Linked DNA regions of Homo sapiens: regions 1 and 3 are each reported to be linked to region 2. Evidence: microRNA targets listed by miRTarBase, many of them from high-throughput screens and not tested one by one. Region 2 holds a microRNA gene; each other region holds the end of a gene's coding sequence.
What was found. Region 2 holds the annotated microRNA hsa-miR-4742-5p (UCAGGCAAAGGGAUAUUUACAGA, at 1,365-1,387, shown strand). A microRNA usually pairs through its seed, bases 2 to 8, with sites in the 3' UTR of a target mRNA and lowers its output. Matches are read on the target gene's strand: a 7mer-m8 pairs with bases 2 to 8, a 7mer-A1 pairs with bases 2 to 7 and ends in A, and an 8mer does both.

Region 1: the mRNA of SLC18B1 is a reported target of hsa-miR-4742-5p. Seed matches in the 3' UTR shown: 7mer-m8 at 3,372-3,378.
Region 3: the mRNA of RBPJ is a reported target of hsa-miR-4742-5p. Seed matches in the 3' UTR shown: 7mer-m8 at 1,760-1,766.

The regions. Positions count from the first base shown.
Region 1 is chr6:132,766,361-132,770,716 of GRCh38, forward strand. It overlaps SLC18B1 (solute carrier family 18 member B1), which reads right to left. Exons shown (of 14, transcript NM_052831.3): 14 at 3,010-3,976. The coding sequence ends at 3,910. Among named protein-coding and RNA genes, the nearest start is that of VNN2, 11 kb to the left of the region's middle. RefSeq lists an enhancer at 1,846-2,005.
Region 2 is chr1:224,395,676-224,399,675 of GRCh38, reverse strand. MIR4742 (microRNA 4742) reads left to right here and starts at 1,365; the gene lies at 1,365-1,449. It overlaps WDR26 (WD repeat domain 26), which reads left to right. Exons shown (of 14, transcript NM_001379403.1): 10 at 642-787; 11 at 1,083-1,161; 12 at 1,450-1,579.
Region 3 is chr4:26,429,994-26,434,292 of GRCh38, forward strand. RBPJ (recombination signal binding protein for immunoglobulin kappa J region) reads left to right here. Exons shown (of 11, transcript NM_015874.6): 9 at 1-60; 10 at 426-529; 11 at 699-4,299. The coding sequence ends at 1,014. Among named protein-coding and RNA genes, the nearest start is that of CCKAR, 58 kb to the right of the region's middle.

The DNA.
Region 1 (4,356 bases), not on the chromosome of region 2:
CTCCTGCCTCAGCCTCCTGAGTAGCTGGCATTACCATGCCCGGCTAATTTTTGTATTTTTTTGTAGAGATGGAGTTTCACCATGTTTGCCAGGCTGGTCCTGAACTCCTGACTTCAGGTGATCCGCCCACCTCGGCCTCCCAAAGTGCTGGGATTATAGGCATGAGCCACCATGGCTGACCAGATATTTCATTAATGCGTGATATTTAATATTTATTGTCAAAATCAAGTTTCTTATCTAAAATAAATGAGTTAGTTGAAAACAAACTAATCATGCAATTATCACGCAACTCAGCAGTTGTATTGCTGGGCATTTATTCCAGAGAAGTGAAGTCTTATGCTTCATATCCCACCCTCTACCCTCGCCCCTGGCAAAAACAAACAAACAAACAAACAAAAAACCTGTTTCTGAAAGTTCATAGCTGCTTTATTTGTAACAAATAAAGTAGTATTCCATTGTGTCTTAAAGCCACCCAATGGAATACTACTCAGCAATTTAAAGAACTGAACTATTGATACATGCAACAATGCCAATAGAACTCAAGGGCATTATGCTGACTGAAAAAAGCCAATCCAAAAAGTTTCATACAATACGATTTCATTTATACGTTTCTTGAAATGACCAGATGATAGAAATGGAGAAGAGATTAGTGGCTGCCAGAAGTGAAGATGGGAGGGAAGTGGGTGTAGCTACAAAAAGACAACGTGAAGAATGTGGCGATGGGAATGTTCTGTATCCTGGTTGTGCTATTGTACTATAGTTCTGCAAGATGTTATCATTGGTGAAAACCAGGGAAAGAATACTCATGATCTTTTTCTATTATTTCTTACAACTGCATGTGAATTAACAATTATCTCAAAATTTTTAAAGTTTAATTTTTAAAAATGATCTGTGATTTGTATTTAACCTTTTTAGTTTTCCTTTGGATTGATTTATGTATCATATTATAATGTATAGGTTGCAATATGATCTTAACATAAAAGATTCCTTTTATTACTAACATATTCCACATTCAGTTATATAGAATATTCTCATTATTAAAAAGGTTCTTTTAAGCTGCTCAGCCTTGTTACATTTAGAAGACTATAAATATATAAAAATACAAACACATACACAGAGATTTCCTTTGATAGTTTTGACCTACCTTTTGGTTTTCTTGTTCAAAGTGTTCTTTCCTCTGTCTTTTCTCATATTTTTTAAACTTTTCTGTGACTTTTTTTTTTTTTTTTTTTTTTGAGACGGAGTCTTGCTCTGTCACCAGGGTGGAGTGCAGTGGCGCAATTTCGGCTCACTGCAACCTCCTTCTCCCGGGTTCAAGCAATTCTCCTGCCTAAGCCTCCCAAGTAGCTGGGACTATAGGCGCACACCACCATGCCCAGCTAACTTTTGTATTTTTAGTAGAGATGGAGTTTCACCAAGATGGTCTTGATCTCTTGGCCTCGTGATCCATCCACCTCAGCCTCCCAAAGTACTGGGGTTACAGGCGTGAGCCACTGCTCCCGGCCCACTTATCTTAATACTTGCAAAATTTCAAAATGAGAAAGGAGTAAATTTGGTTTTGTACATAGCATCTTTAAATACACTGCTATCCAAGGGAAGTATTGAGAGCCGTGTGTTGGGAATGGGGATGAAGGAAGTTCTCTCCCCAGAGAGCCTCGAATCCTTGCGTTGACTTTGAATTCTCAACAATCAACTGTGCTGGTAACAGAATAGGCTGGCCCAGATAGTGGGTAGGAAGGTGCAAGCTGCAGACTCATGCTTTAATAGTGGCCCCAAGTGACAGTGGCAGGGACTGCAGGCACTCAGCCGCATCCAAGACCACCGGGCTGAGGAAGGGCGGCTGTCCTTGCGTGGGTGGACATGAAGGTCAAAAAAGTCCTGGAGGGGGCCAGGATGACTTAAGGCAATCAAGGCCCAGATCTGCATGCCACATGGGTGCAGGGGGCCAGGGTCACACTCTGTCCTGGCACTGCTCCGGGAAGGGAATTGCAGGCCATTTGTCCTCCTCAGACATTGGATCGCCCTCTGGAGGTTCAAGAGTGAAAGGTTTGAGGGGATAGGGAAATGAAGAGATCACAAGACAGATGTACATCCAGTCTTGACACTCAATGCCAGGCAGTCTTCCAAAGCCATCCTCTCCTACCCTGGGTATTGTCCTCCTTTTCCATATTTTTGGTTTTGGTGGTGTGCAATGACATCCCATGGTGGCTTGAACTTTTGCCACTTCAGGATCCGTTTTGCTCCTATTCCCCAATTCACTAAGAGTCACCACCATCCACCCACACCCTCAAGCCAAAACCTAGGAGTCCTCCTAGATTCCCCTCTCCTCCCTCCACATCAGCAAGTTCTGTTGGTTCCACTCCCAGATAGAGCCTTTTCTCTCCATCACAAGCTCCCTGGTCCAAACCATTATTGTCTCTCTCAAATCTTCCAAAGCTCCCCCTCCATTCCCTTTACCGTCCCTATCCCCACTCACTGTCCACATGCAGACAGAATGGACTTTCTGAAATGTGAATCAGATTCTGGCATCGCCTCCAGTTTACTAGACTCCAGCCAGCAGACCAAACCTCATCTTTGACCATGTCAAGCCCTTGTGCACATACTACGGACTGTCCCCTGTCAGAATGAATGGTGGTTACATCCTCTTCCTTTAGATCTCAACTCAAAGGTCGCACTTCCATGGACTTTTTCAAATTAGGCACCCATATCTAAACAAACCCAGCCAACTACTCTATCACATCACCATGTTTTTTTTTCCTTCTTAGCATTTCTGTAAGATAATTGGAGAGTCTGATATTTATTTATTGTTCGTCTCTTCCACCAGTATAAGTTACATAAAAGCAGAGATTGTGTTTATCTTGATCACAGCCAAATCCCTAGCATCTGGCATAGTGTCAGCTCAGAGAAGACATTCAAAAGATATTTTTGAATGAATAGATAAAACCATTTCTTCTTTAAAAAAATTACTGTAAATGTGGCTACTACACCATGAAAATAGACCAAGAAGCATGAGAGTTACACAATAGACATTTATTCACTTCAACATCACAATTTCACACGAAGTTGGAGGAAGCCCTTCCCTAACAAAACAAGCATTCGCATTAGGGGAAGGAGGCTGACCTGCTCTAGGGATGAAATACATCTACCAAGATATAGATAAAAACAAAAACAAAACAGATGGTAGAGCCAAAAAACAGAGACATTAAAGGAAATGAAAAACGTTATACCAAGTAATGTTTATAAATCCAGATCATAAGTGAACGTAGGTTACAAAAATGGAAGTTGTAAGTATTGTTATTCTTGTACTTTTCACACAAACAGAATTTTTAGAAAAGCTTAAGGTCAGGGAGTGCTAGAGAGTTTCTGTATGGCAGGCAAGAATTCTTCCTTTTGAACAAGACCGAAAAACCTCAGGACAAAGAGAAAGTATATCTTTTAAAAACTGATTTCATAGTAATGTTTCTACATATTTTGAAGCACCTTTATGTATTTAGAGCATATCAAATTAATTCATTTCTTTCCCTGTTAATAAAAAAGGTACATTCACAGAATCAGTGTACTTAGAATAAAAAATAAACAGAGGAAATAAGAACTAACTCGAGTTAATAACAACATCTTTAAGGACAAGTTTGGTCATTTAAAAACTAAGTCTTGTTTTGTTTTGCTTGTTTTTAATTACTCCTTTCATACTTAATATTTCAAATATAGCTGCTTCAGCAGGACAGCTTTTCAGTATCACAGTAAGTACAGCCCAATACAGGATCATCCAAAAACACGTTGACACTTCCAAGACACTGGCACGGGGTCCACGGAGTTTTGCGCGTAAAATTTTAAAAACCCTTCCTACGGTGATGTTTAAGGCCAGGAGCATTCATTTCTCAACCTTGTATCAATCCAGGATCCATCGGACTAGGTTTCATTAGGCAAGAGAGTAGTTCGTTCCTCCTCTGTGCTGAGGATGTTTTGAGATTTAGACCTACATTGAGGGAAAGAAGAGATGAATCTCAATATTTCTCATCTTAAAAACAAACAAACAAACAAAAAACCAGTACCTGTATCTCCATCCAACTATCTTTTTAAAAAAGTTTCTACTGCCCGGGCATGGTGGCTCACGCCTGTAATCCCAGCATTTTGGGAGGCAGAGGCAGGCGGATCACTTGAGGTCAGGAGTTCGAGACCAGCCTGGCCAACATGGTGAAACCCTGTCTCTACTAAAAATACAAAAATTAACTGGGCATGGTGACCCATGCCTGTAATCTCAGCTACGTGGGAGGCTGAGGCAGGAAAACCGCTTGAACCCGGGGGGCAGAAGTTGCAGTGAGCTGAGATTGTGCCACTGCATGCCAGTCTGGGTGA
Region 2 (4,000 bases):
GCGTGCAAGATGATCATGTATGTTTCTGCTGAGTTTGCTGTCCTATACTGTGTTAAGCCATCAAGATACAGGATTATCTAACTTATAAAATGGGAAGGGTTGTTCCTCTCAGAACTTTGGATATTCAATGAGATAATGACTATAAGAGCTTTGATCTGTAGAGCACATTACAAATTTGGTAAATTTTTGAAAAATGTCATTAACAGATTCCTCCAGTCTGTATGAAGCTGTAAAATGTTTTAGAATCTTTTTCCATTTCACAACTCCTAAATATTAGGACAAATTCCAGTATAGTGAATTTTAAAGGAACGTTTAAATTGTTTTTGAATAAAAGTAAGACCTTACTTGGAACTTAGGGACTGTTTCTTTCTTTGTGTTATTTATGCATGGTGAGTTATTGAAGGGAAGATAGAGCTACAAAGTGTCTCTCTGCTTTCCCTTAAGTATGGTTGTAATGAAATTTGAACTATATTCAAATTTTCATGGTTAAAAACACTTCTAGAACAATTAGGTTGAGATCAGTCTCAGGAAAAAAAAAAAACCTGTTACTAAAAGATATTGTGAAGGGAGTCTTTTGGTTCTTTATTTGCTTTCTGAGTGCTGTTGAGTAATGAAGTTAATAGTAGTTTTTTCTTACTCAGGACTTAGATGGTAATCTCCTTGACTCCTGGGAAGGGGTAAGAGTGCAATGCCTTTGGTGCTTGAGTGATGGAAAGACTGTTCTGGCATCAGATACACACCAGCGAATTCGGGGCTATAACTTCGAGGACCTTACAGATAGGAACATGTAACTATTTTTTGTTTCCATTAAACAACAATTACCTGATTTATATTCAAATGTGTAGTGGAACTTGCCTTTTCACAGTTTTTATGTTTTTCGTTTTGGTTTGCGTGGTAATTTGGATTGAAGGTCACATGGTACTTAGTAATCAGTAACTCAGATTCTTCTCAATTGAAGTATAGTATGTAATAGTGATTGCAGGCAAAATTGTCATACTTAAGCTAGCACATCTTATGTATTGATAATTTGAATGTCTTGACTGTTAATATGTTGTTTTTGACAAATTATTTTCTGGTTCCAGAGTACAAGAAGATCATCCTATTATGTCTTTTACTATTTCAAAAAATGGCCGATTAGCTTTGTTAAATGTAGCAACTCAGGTATGTTTATTAGTATAATTTTCTGAAAAATTTGGCTTAGTACAAGTTTTATTTTAACTGTTATTTTCAGTGTATTTATATTAACAAAATTTTCTACTTACCCTTAAATTTGATTGCATGTGATTGATCCTTAAATGTGTATAATCAACCATAAATTTGTCAGAATGTTGGTATTTTGCATAATAGAAAATGAAGATATTTCATCAGGCAAAGGGATATTTACAGATACTTTTTAAAATTTGTTTGAGTTGAGGCAGATTAAATATCTGTATTCTCCTTTGCCTGCAGGGAGTTCATTTATGGGACTTGCAAGACAGAGTTTTAGTAAGAAAGTATCAAGGTGTTACACAAGGGTTTTATACAATTCATTCATGTTTTGGAGGCCATAATGAAGACTTCATCGCTAGTGGCAGTGAAGGTAAATTGTGTCCTTATCAGTTTACATATGTTGATATTAAAGTCTGTAAATCTCAATTTATGAAGGCAGTCATGTCTCCAAGAAAATTCAGGGTAGTAAGTTAAAATTCTTTCATTTATCCAATACACGGTTAATTTCTCTCTGTAATGACCTAAGCCCCTGTATTATCACAAATTGTCACATGCTGTCATGTATTACTTTCTCCTTTTCTGTAATGACCTAAGCCCTCCATATTGTCATGTATTGTCACGGATTAGCAGTGCTTATTCTGACCACGTAGCAGTGTGTTTGGTGCATGTGTCTAATCAAGATTTAGTTAAATTATTATACTTTCATATGTTGACTTGTATTTTCATGGGACTGATGGTTTTTAAGGGTTGGTAGTATCTGAAAAATCAAGGTTAATTATGATGCTCTACCTGAACTTGGACAGATTTGACTATAGTTAGTTCTTCAGTATTTCTTCAGCGGTCACCAGAGTTATAATTGAGTTTGATAATTCTTAAGATTTTAGGAAAGCTGAAATTATTCTTCCTACTACTACCCTTTTGAATAAACTTGTTCTCTAATCTAAAAGTGTCAGTATTCCAGACAGGAATATGCCTAAAGTCACTCTAAAGTGTGAATTGTTTAGAAGATGCAAGCACAAATAAGTGAGGCAGTAATAAAAATTAGTGTACTTTTTAAGGCGATAGGAACTTAACTAGTGGCAAATTATTGCAAGTTTTTATTCAACACATTTTTCTTCAATACCCACTGTACATTTCTAGGTACTATAAAAGCAAATTATTTAAGTCACTTTTTTTGGCCGGGCATGATGGCTTACACCTGTAATCTCAACACTCTGGGAGGCCTAGATGGGAGTACTGCTTGAGGCCACGAGTTCCAGACCAACCTGGGCAACATGGCTAGACACTGTCTCTACAAAAAGTAAAAAAATATATACTGAATCTGGTTTTATAAGATAGACCAAGGAATTAGATTATGTTATGTTCCATTTATTGTATAAGATGTTTACTATCCCTATCTTGACAAAAAACTGATCTTGGTAGATAAGAGGATCATAAAGTGCACATGAGGTTTACCTTTAAGAATAAGGCATATTTAAGGATTGGGACAAAGAGAGACATTTAGAGATTTAGATTTTAACATCAAGCATATAAATTCATCTATTCCTTTTCTTTTCTTTTCTTTTCTTTTCTTTTTTTGAGTGCAATGGCACGATCTTGATGCAACCTCCACCTCCTGGGCTCAAGCAGTCCTTCCCTCCTCAGCCCCTCAAGTAGCCCCAACAAATTTTTGTAGAGATGGGGTTTCACCGCGTTACCCAGGCTGGTCTTGAATTCCTGAGCTCAAGCAGTCTACCTGCCTCAGCCTCCTGAAGTGCTGGGATTACAGGCATGAGCCACCGCGCCCAGCCTGAATTCATCAATTCTTTCTTTCTACCGAAAATCAGCGTCAGATGAGATTGGGAGGAAAGAAGAGTGGTTAGGTAGCAATTGGGAATTTACTTTTTTCCAGTCAGGAAATTTAGTTTTTTCCACTACTTCTAGATTCTCTATTGGCTTTTTGTTTTGTTTTGTCTGTCTGTTTTTAATATATCGCGGGAGATAATAGACATTAGTTTCTAATTAAATTTTCCTGTGGTCTAAATATGTTAAGCCTTCTTGCTTTTAAATTCCTCCTGTTTATAAGATGTCTTCTTCCATGGTCTATTCAATCCTGCTTCTGGTAGGTTTTCTTTCTCTTAATTATGCCTGAGAATCCCTTACAGCTCTTTCTGTGTACCCTAGAGGTACTTAAAATTATGTATGGCTACCATTATCCCTAGAAAAGCCAAACTTTTTTTTAAGCCCAAACTAACTTAGAAACAACGATGAATACTATAATTAAACCACATTATCTTCTGGTTTAGGGCTACAAATTAGACCACTGTCAAGTACAGAGATTAGTCTTCTCATGACTCAAGTGATTTAGAATGGTTTTGAAAATGTTTTGAACATCAATCAGATATAGCGAGTATATTATCTCCCAGGATGACCACAGTAATCCATTTGCCATTTATTTGTAAGGAATATATTTCAATGACCCTCCAAATCCCCAAATATATAAGTGCCAGTATAAAATAGAGCAATTAAAAACCGTTTCCCAAAAAAGTTATACCACTACTCAAGCCTTTTCATTGTGCTGGCAATATGTAGAAAAACTGGACTTTTTTACCTTTGCATAAACAATAGATTTCTCAGATTGATACAGCAAACAGAGCTTGATGATAAAGCCTGTCATTTTGACCTTGATTACTTCAAACCCGGTTTTTCCTGCCTTTCACCAAATGTGCTCCTTGAATATATATTCACAAAAACATTTTCCACCAAATAGAGAAATATTCAATTGCATTCACACTTTAACCCTGTGATCCTT
Region 3 (4,299 bases), not on the chromosome of region 2:
GAGGGAATGGGCCCTGTCCTTGCCCCAGTCACTCCTGTGCCTGTGGTAGAGAGCCTTCAGGTGAGAACGCCTAGTCCAAGTTGGCCTTCAGCTCTTTGCAGCTACTCTCAGCTGTGACCTGGCATCATTTCATTTCATGGGAGTTTTGATTTTTCTCCAATCGTCTGATTAGGGGATTTTTATATACACCATTTGTTGATTTAAAGAAAAAAAAACAAAATTAGGAGGAGCGTACTTGCCAGAAAATTTAAATGTAAATAAACTTGTATGTTATCTTGAAATGTTTTTAGCTAGCTTTGTAATAAAAAACATTTTAATTGCCCTTTTTTAAAAAAAACAAATGAAAGTTGAATGAGAATCTAATTTGTGTACTTTAATGAAAAATGAAAAGTTTTCTCAGTGTTGTGATTTTCTGTGAATTGCAGTTGAATGGCGGTGGGGACGTAGCAATGCTTGAACTTACAGGACAGAATTTCACTCCAAATTTACGAGTGTGGTTTGGGGATGTAGAAGCTGAAACTATGTACAGGTACTTGATAAAACTTTTTGCATCATCCAGAGGTTGTGAGGGGTGTGGGTACAGGAGATTCTTTCCTGGCACTGATTGTAATGTATTAAACAACCTTGTGTTAAGTCTCATTTTTAACATGTACTTTGCTTTTTAAAGTGTTTTTAAGTGATTTCTATTTCCTCCTCAGGTGTGGAGAGAGTATGCTCTGTGTCGTCCCAGACATTTCTGCATTCCGAGAAGGTTGGAGATGGGTCCGGCAACCAGTCCAGGTTCCAGTAACTTTGGTCCGAAATGATGGAATCATTTATTCCACCAGCCTTACCTTTACCTACACACCAGAACCAGGGCCGCGGCCACATTGCAGTGCAGCAGGAGCAATCCTTCGAGCCAATTCAAGCCAGGTGCCCCCTAACGAATCAAACACAAACAGCGAGGGAAGTTACACAAACGCCAGCACAAATTCAACCAGTGTCACATCATCTACAGCCACAGTGGTATCCTAACTACCGTCTTTTTGCTAGGACTTAAACTGACTTGAGTGTGGCAAAAAGTTAACAAAAAAGGAGAAAAAATGAACAATCGTTTGTGGTTTCTTGGGAAAACTTTTCATACCAGGTGATACTATTCAAAAACCCCGTTGTCTCCCTGCAAGTGCTGATTTGAAATGCAGAAGCCACAGTAAAAAAAAAAAAAAAAAAAAAAAAAAAGAAAAAAAAATCAAAATGTATAAATATTGGAAATCAAGTTTTTCAGCTGTTTTGTTGGTTGGTTGGTTGGTTTTTGTTTGGTTTTGTTTAAATGGGCAAGAAGTAAATAATGTGGCTGGAATACAAGTTGAACAAACTAGAAGACACAAATCTAACATAGTTTTTATGGACCAAGGAACTTGTATATTGTATAAGCTTTAGTAAAAGGTACATTTTCACCATACCTTTTTTTATATCACGGTATTATAGTACACCTTGTTACCAAATAGGTTGTTCTCTTCCCCACCCACCTTTGAGCTTTTGCTCTAAAATACATTCAGGTTCCAAGCCTGACCATCCTTGTTTAATCTATCATACTCTTCCAGGTTTTTTTTTTTTGGTCTAAGGCTGGAACTTTTTTCTTTTTTTTCAGCTGAAGTCTTATGACTTTTCATGAGTCAAAATTGTTTGGATTTCAGCAAGTCAAATCTTGCAAAGGCCTGCATATTTTTTTTAAGATTATATGAAGTCTGTGCAAAAGCTTTAAAAAAATGCCTCTGCCTTGCCTGCAATACATGCAATGTATGTTAACTTAGTCTCTCTTCTCAGACACTGTTGGTAGTTATTTCTGTGTTTTCCTTTTTTTAAAAAAAAATATGGACTTATTGTGGTTATCTGAGAGGTTCTAACATTCACATGCAATTTGGTGTGGCCATTTAGCTATTAATGAGTTAATGGCGCAGAACTTGTTGATATTTGAAGTGTTCTCTCCCCTTTTCCCATGACGTAAATACATAGGTGTGTTCCAGGATTTGTTCAGGTTTTTCCCCCCTCCTAATCTTGTACATAACTTGTATTATGTGTAAGTTAAACATTTTATTTTGAACTTGGAATGTTCCCAGTGATTTCATTCAGCAGGGTATTTTCTGCCTTGTTGGCAAGTGACAAAAAATATGGGAAGTATTTGCTACCAGTTGGTAGATGGTGCCCTTAATGGTAGAATGAGGAAAATGTCCGCAAAAGCATGTTTTATTATCTTTACTTTTTTGGGGGGTTGGAGGGGGTAGCCTAGCCAGAACATCATTGTAATCTTAAAACATAAGATGCTTTTATTAGATGATCAACTAAAATAGCTGGAAGACAGTACTTTAGAAACAGATAGTTGTAAGATTATAAAATGCAAATGTAACTTATGTTTTCATTTTTTTCTCTGCCTTTTTTGTTTGTTTGTTTTCTCTTTTCCAGTACTGAGCATCTCCACAAATGTCTCCTAACTCAGAAAATGTTTCTTTTCTTTTCAGTTGAGATTTGGTTGCATTCAGGGTTGTAGGTTGGCCTTGCTTGCTAACCCCGCCGGTTTTACCGTGCTTTCATTCCTGAACTTTGTTTATGCCTTTGTTTGGTTTCTTCGAAATTGCAGCAGACTCATTGGGCTACATTTAGTACAGGAACCACGTGTGTAATGTTATACAACACAGTCTAGTAATACAATCATCCCTCTTAGAGTAAAAACTACCTCTAGATTGTGGTAAGCTTTTACTGTCCCATAAAACAGGAGCCACAGTACCTTATGAATGCAAAACTGTAACTTCCTACAGTGTTTCCCTACAGAACATTGTCTTTCTGGTGTCCTGGGCTGTTTTGAAAAAGTTTCCATTAATAGACTTTTTAGAAATTATTATTAGTAGCATTTTTTTTCCAGCTTTGCTGTCTTCATCACTCACTCTATGCTCAGACTATGCCACTGTAAATATTCTTCCTAACATCTTTAAATCGCCTTTTCCTCAGTTTTCAAGGGGAAGGTCATTTGTAAAGCACGTTAGGTGGTTAAATCAGTTATTGCGGTTTTCTCTTACTGCAAGCCTTTTTAATCACCCCCAGGCTGCATTTTATTCTATATCGCCTTTTTTCTTCAAATCTGCTCCAATCACTCACTTCTCTCTTATAAGCTAATCCTGCCTCACACCTTAAATCTGTTTCAGTGATCAAGGGCAGAACTCATTGTGGCCTTATCTTTCTTTGTTGTAATTGTTCACTGTCTCTTTCTTACAGACCACTTATTTCTGAGTAGTAGTTATTCCTCTCTATGGAGTCATGGCAGGAATCATTACACAGTGCTTTTGTTCAGAGCATGGACATGTTCCTAGTGCTGCTTTGCTTTAACGGCCACAAGTTTCCTCCACTTCCTAGGTTTGGTATTTAGTTAAGGAATCATATTAAATTAACCAATAACAAAAGAGATACTTTTGAAGAACAAACTATTCCTTACCCATTTTTGTAGCTCAAAAATAATTTTTCAAGTTCATGACCTTATTAAAATGAACTTGTGTTTTTTTAACAAACATGTATGTTTTATTTTGATAGTTTCTTTCCGTAAGATAATTGAAATATTATACTGTAAACCCTTTTCTTTTCTTTTTTTGAAAAGTCCAAGAATGTACTTATACAGGCATTTTTCCCCACCTATTTTTGGCCATTCTCATACCACAGACTAAAGAGTGAAATGATTTGTCCATTGTAGCTTATTGTTTATCAGTAGTTCTTTTGTCAGCTGCTTACATTTTTTCTTTCATGGTTTTGTGAATCATTTTCAGTATGTAATTTATAGGAACCTTGTCCTCTGGTTATAGTAGACTGTGTGCCCTCCTCCAGTGATGGCATTATTAGACATGCTGGTCATTTACCCTCAGAAAGACTCTCTTATTAGAATGGTGAGTGCTTCAGTTATAGTATGTTTGAATTTTTAAAAAATTCTGTTTTAGAAATGTATCTTATGCTCTCATGACTATGCAGTTTCTAAACATACACATAGAAGCTGAGTCTCTGATCCAATATGTTTTTATTTGTTCCATTTAATTTATCACATAGATTGGGAAGGCAAGCTAAAAGCCTTAAAAATGCCCTTTATATTTTGAGTGATTTCAGCGTTGAACACTAGTATACTATCTAAATTTGCTGCTCACTTTCTTTAAACTGTGGCAATTAAAGGCATGTTTATACATGACTTAATCGTGAAATGTTTGTCACTCTTACTGCACAGACTTATCTGCAATCATAACTGGTTAGTTTTTTTGTTTTGTTTTGTTTTATTGTTTTTAATGA